Homo sapiens: one gene and its partner. The protein of the gene in region 2 purifies or fractionates together with the protein of the main gene of each other region. This does not show direct contact. Each region holds a gene or a part of one and is shown on either strand. Other genes may lie near its edges.

Evidence for each region.
Region 1: the proteins of FAM81A (region 2) and BEND3 purify together in Homo sapiens (affinity purification with mass spectrometry; one large-scale study listed by BioGRID and IntAct). This does not show direct contact.

What each region holds. Positions count from the first base shown.
Region 1 is NC_000006.12:107,064,682-107,067,598, reverse strand, and holds the end of BEND3 (BEN domain-containing protein 3), read left to right. Parts: 3' UTR 1-2,417; downstream 2,418-2,917. UniProt on the Homo sapiens protein: Transcriptional repressor which associates with the NoRC (nucleolar remodeling complex) complex and plays a key role in repressing rDNA transcription.
Region 2 is NC_000015.10:59,511,186-59,514,685, reverse strand, and holds part of FAM81A (protein FAM81A), read right to left. Parts: intron 398-3,500; coding exon 262-397; intron 1-261.

The sequences.
Region 1 (2,917 bases), on a different chromosome or scaffold from region 2:
CAGGCCATTTTAGATGGGGTACACATGTCCCTTCCCAGGGTCCACTCAGAACTTTCCTCTTGGACTCTCTAGAAGGTCCTGCTGTCCTATACCTGGCCACCCCCTGCCTTGGGGGGCACATGTCTTCGTTCCCTCCCGACTGGGAATGTCAGGCTCCTGCAGGCCAGCTGCATGCTCTCCAGGAGCACCAACTGGGAAATCCCCTGACAGGTAAAGTCCTTTAAAATGATACTTTTACCTACCTAACTCTGGGGGCCAAATGCTTAAGAGGGAAAGGAAACAGTCGAATGCAAACAGTGTGTCATACCAGAGTCCTGGAAAATTTATTGAATCACACAGGGTAGTCATAGAACCCCTGTGGGATGGCTTAATATTTTGCTACTTTAAAATGCAGAGATAACAGAAACAATCTGGATTTTCTTCATTCAGCTGATAAGAACTTCAGTTCCAGTGGCTGTATGACATAATTTTGCCTGTACCCAGGAGCATTTTTTAAAATACAGGATTTTAAAAGCAATGTTAAGTTGCTGATCTAACTAGTAAATTTGCTCCTAAGTGTCATTTACAGATTATTTCTGTTGAAACTGCAAACAGATTTAGAAAGGCACAGGGACTGAATGACTCTCTGTCTTACACAGCTACTCATGCACACACGCACTGCTTACTAAAAGCTGAAGTGAGATGAAGGGGGCCTACACGAATAACAAGTTCAACTTCTTTGTGCCTGGAAAGGAGGGACTGGAGCAGCCAGGAGACTCACTTTCCCCCCTCGCTTGGGCCCTTCTCTATGCCTTAGTCTCTCCAGCACATGCACACAGCATGCACACACACGCACCCTACCCAAAGACAGCTGTGGCCCTCTCCCACCACCTCCCCCTTCCCACCGCTGGTTGTTGGGGGCTGGAGGCGGGAGGTCCCATGGAATTTGTTCTGGTTTCTAGGATGTAAACGAGGACTCCAAGCCATGAATTGCCCTGCTTTCTAGAGGGTGGAATGTTGACCCTGCAACTTTAGAAGCACAATCATTTATTAATAATTTTTTTGAAACTCCCATCTACCCCTGTTAGAGAAATCAACAGGTTCTAGGAATTAAATATGTCTCTTTGTAACCCAGAGCATGTTCAATTTTTGGAAACCGTATTTCAGTGATTTTCTTAATACCTTACATGTGTAGGGCATCTTCCCCCAGAATCTTACAGTCCCTTTCTGTGAAGAGAAGTGGACACACGTGGGAACTCTCACCATCTCTGGACTGTCGTCAGGAAACGCCTGCAGGTCCTTGCCCTGTCTGTATGGTGTCCTCACTTCTCCATCCATACAGGTGGCTCCAGTGGGCATTTTTTTATTTTAAATTTTTTACATGAAGCAATAGAAGTACAAAATACTTATTTTTTCAAAATTTAATGTGTTCCATGAAACCTGTTGGCAGTCGCTTTCCTTCCCCCACATCTAAATTCTTTGGTTTTTAGTTGTTTGTTTTTTGGATTTTTTTTTTTTTTTTTTTGGCCTTGTATCCCAAGGACTAAAAGATTAGCACAGACACGTTTTGATGTTGAATGAACTAGTAAGTCACAGTAGGTGGTAGTCTTCATTGATTTCTCTGTAAGTTTTTAAAGAATGTATGAAGATAGTCACGAATGTACTGAGTGTTCGCATCCCCCTTCAGTTCACCTTGGCTGTGTCTACAGGACAACAAATGTTTGACAGGGAATAAAGTCGTGTCTGGTGTCATTTGCGCTAGCGTGCCCCTCCCCTTTCGGTGTTGGCTCCAAACCTTCCTTTCCTTTTATGTTTGTGGGGAGTGGGGAACCACATCAGCAGCAATCATCAACCAACCAACCAATGGGATCTACTTAGTGGTGAATAGATTGGCTATTTAATTGGTAAAAGTTGCTGGTCTGACCACACCACAGCATGACCACTGGGTTCATTTAGAGATGGCCTCCGTTTCCAACGTTCCCCACAAATGTTTGCTTCTTTCCCAGTCAAGAGGGGATCTCGAGACTCCCGAGTGGAGGTCGTGAGCTTGCACCCCGCCTGGCTGTGTAGATCGACTGTATAGATACATGAAGTGGGGGTGAGGGCCAAGGGGCTATTACTGCTGTTGGGAAATACTTGCCTCTCGTAGATCCAGCCTTAATGTTTTTCTGACATCCTAGTAATAGCAGACCCTGCACAAAGTGGATATCAGACTTAATACTGTGAGGAGACAAAATAATGAGAATAGTTTTACCAAAGATAATGAAATCTCGCATCATGTCTGCATTTTACCATAGATTGGAGTGCATCCTTAGGAAACTGAATGTAACAAAAACCCAGGACATTTTTGGAAATTGTATGCTCTCTAGCAACTTTGTGTGAATTTTTATACAAACACTGTTTTATGAGTTATATAAAATGTTATAAAAATAGAAAAACATGGTCTCGTAACATGTTATTTTCTTAGAGCACTGGTCTCTCAGAATATGTCTTGGTCTATTTGTCTTTGTGCGTGGCCTCCTCACCCACCTCCCAGGGAAGAACGTGAATATTCCGGGGGATTTCAGCTTCTGGGGCTTCCATACTCTACGTGTCAGGGGTACAGCTCATAGGATTTCAGTTTGGCCACAGCTGAATGAATGAGAAATTGCCAGATAAATCCTCCAAACCATTTCTCCACAAACCACTTCCTGGCCATGTAGTGGGAGGCTTGTTTGACCTTTTTTAACCTTTCCTGGTCAGGTGCCAGGCCAGTCCTGCAAAGCCAGCAGAGTTTCATTTTCATTTAACCGCCTTTTTTTTTTTCACTTTGGATCAAATGGGTTTTAGTTTCCCGCCGCCCCAACCCTGCTAGAGTGCAGTGGTATAATCATGGCTCACTGCAGCCTCGACTTCCTGGGCTCAAGTGATCTTCCTGCCACAGACTCCTAAGTAGCTG
Region 2 (3,500 bases):
ATCATTAAGGTTTTAGCTTAACTTCATCTTAACTGAAAGTACTGAAATTTTCTACTTAGTCTTTGTTAACCAAAACAAGTCAGAGTGTTCTATGTCTTTATGAAGAATACAAAGCATCAATATGGAACTATGGAAATGGATTTTAAGGCAAGAAACAATTGAACAGCTAAATCAGTGATAAATTACTAGGTATTATTATTCAAACAGTGTAGGCCCCCACTGAATAACTTTACTAAATTTTTGCTAAACATCAATACCTACACTGTTTTCCTTAACAATCAAGGAAAGCTGATCAATTTTCTGTAAAAGCTCTTTTTCTATCCGTTCTTGTTCCTGTTGCAACCAACTCCGTGCAGATAATATCTGGTTACTGAGTTCCTCAACTGTACCTTTAAATCTAAAAAAAAAAAATTGCAAGTTAGATGTAAAACAGTTTATTTTTTATTTTTTTTATTTTAAGTTCCAGGGTACATGTTGAGGATATACAGATTTGTTACACAGGTAAACATGTGCCATGGTGGTTTGCTGCATCTGTCAACCCATCACCTAGGTATTAAGCCCTGCATCTATTAGCTATTTTTCCTGATGCTCTCCCTTGCCCCCCCCATGCCCCCAAGCCCCAGTATGTGTTGGTCCCCTCCCTGTGTCCACATGTTCTCATTGTTCAGCTCCCACTTATAAGTAAGAACATGTGGTGTTTGGTTTTCTGTTCCTGTGTTACTTTGCTGAGGATAATGGCTTCCAGATCCATCCATGTCCCTGCAAAGGGCATGATCTCATTCCTTTTTATGGTTGCACAGTATTCCATGCTATATAAGTACCATATTTTCTTTATCTAGTCTATCATTGATGGACATTTCGGTTGATTCCATATCTTTGCTATTGTGAACACTGCTGCAGTGAACATACGTATGCATGTATCTTTGTAACTGAATGATGTATATTCCTTTGGGTATATGCCCAGTAATGGGATTGCTGGGTCAAATGGTATTTCTGGTTCTAACAATTTTTTTTAATGACATCATACAATATCAATTTCCAACTATCATATTTCTGGTATATATGCCAACATTAAACTAGGCTCAATCAGAATTACATATTTTCCTTTTCTTAGAATTGCACTTAGCACTAACATGGGAAGCTGGTAAGGCGGGAGAATACAACAGATAAACCATCTGATTGTGCTTCCTACCCACGAGGAGTACGCGGCACAGGCACTGAGGTGACACAGCGACACAGAGCTGGGCCAGCCACAGACCCCGGCAGTTCCGAGGGTCCACGATACTCCTGGCTCAGAGGACACAGTGTCTCTCATCTCCTCTTCTAGGGTCCCCTTCTTCCCCAGGCTCTTCCTCCTAGTCCCTTTTATCTCTTGGGACTAGAACCTGGCTCCCTTTCTCTCTAACGTTCCCCAAATTGCCCTTGTCCTCTATGGATATTTCCTAATGTAAATCAAAAGAAAAATTGAAAGAAAAAAATAAAACCCTCCCATCCTTCCATTCCTCTCCCTTCCCAAATTCCTTATAACTGTCCATACCTGCTACCTCCCTCTTAATTACTTCTTTCCAGTTTTTATTATAATATGTAATAAAATACAGAAGAATGTATGTGATGTAGACATGTGACTTAAATAGTGATAACATGAACACCCATTGTAGTAGAGCTACCACTTGTCCTGCAATATCTGTTCTCTTCTTCTTCCTTATTAAGAAGCCCTCAAATGTTAACTGGGTACATGGCTGCCTAGCCAGAGACCACATTTCCCAGGATCCCTTGCAGCGAGATATAGCCTCATGATGCATCAAAGTCATAAGCACGCCTTTCCAGTCCTATCTTTAAAAACAAAGCTTCTGCCCTGGACTCTCTCCCTGTCCCAGGTGACTGGGAAGGGACGAGGACTGGAGCCTTGGAAAAACCACACTGAGTTGCGACTGCTGCCTGTCTCCTCTGGACCACTGATCTCCGCACTGTTATGTGAGAGCCAGCATGGAAGCTAGCCTGTACCCTAAGTACACAACCGTGAACCCCTGCCAGGTAAGACATGGAACACTGCCAGGACCTTAGAAGACCCAAGTGTACTTTGCGATCACCCCACAACCCAAGAAGTAACCATTAACTGGAACTTATTGTTCTTCATCATTTTATTCTATTGGTTTGGATCTTAAAACAGCATATTTTTCAGCATTGCTTTTTTTTTTTTTTTTTTTTTTTTTTGAGATGGAGTTTCGCTCTGTCGCCCAGGCTGGAGTACAGTGGTGTGATTTTGGCTCACTGCAACCTCTGCCTCTCAGGTTCAAGTGATTCTCCGGCCTCAGCCTCTTGAATAGCTGGGACTACAGGCGCGCACCACCATGCCCAGCTAATTTTTGTATTTTTGTACAGACAGGGTTTCACCATGTTGGCCAGGCTAGTCTCCCAAACTCAAGTGATCTGCCTGCCTTGGCCTCCCACAGTGCTGGGATTACAGGCGTTAGCCCCCTCGCCTGGCCAGCATTGCATATTTTTAAATTTTATACAAATGGAACGTACTAAAGTGTGAGTTTTCTACTCATTTTTCACTCAACATATGTCTGTGAGATTCATTCATGCTGATTTGTATAGCTGTAGTGAATTCATTTTCATTGTTGAATAATATTCAATTTTATGAATATACCACAGCTTATCCAGTCTTCTGTTGATGGACATTTGTTTTGGTTTGTTTTTATCCATCTTTGCTATTAAAAATAATGCTGTTATGGGCCGGGTGCAGTGGCTTACGCCTGTAATCCCAGCACTTTGGGAGGCCGAGGTGGGCAGATCACGAGGTCAGGAGATTGAGACCATCCTGGCTAACATGGTGAAACCCCATCTCTACCAAAAATACAAAAATTAGCTGGGCATGGTGGCACGTGCCTGTAGTCCCAGCTACTCGGGAGGCTGAGGCAGGAGAATCGCTGAACCCGGGAGGTGGAGGTTGCAGTGAGCCGAGATCAAGCACACTGCGCTCCAGCCTGGCGACACAGCAAGACTCCATCTCAAAATAAATAAATAAAATAAATAATAATGCTGTTACAAAAATACTGATACATAGCTCCTGGTTCACATTTGGGAGAATTTCTCTAGGGTCTGAACACGTCCAACTTTTCCAGAAAACACCAGACTGTTTTCTAGAGTGGTTGTACTACTTCACATTTTACTCAGCGCTATAAAGAGGTCCTGTTCCCCACATCCTTGCTAACACTTTCACATATCTGATGTGAACCCGTGTCCTTTGGATTTCTTCTAATGTTTGGAAATTATACCAATTTTATTCTTTTAGAATGGAAATTTTAATACACACATTTAATTTATCAAAGTCTAAAGTTATTCAATGTTTCTAATTTGATCCTGAAAAACTCCTAAGAATAATTTCAGAAATCTTCCTCCTCATTTAGATGTTGTCATTGACCTATATTTTAGTTGTGTTTTGATCCTCTGCAAATCTGACTTTAATATTACTGTTTGTTTAGATTTGCCCAATG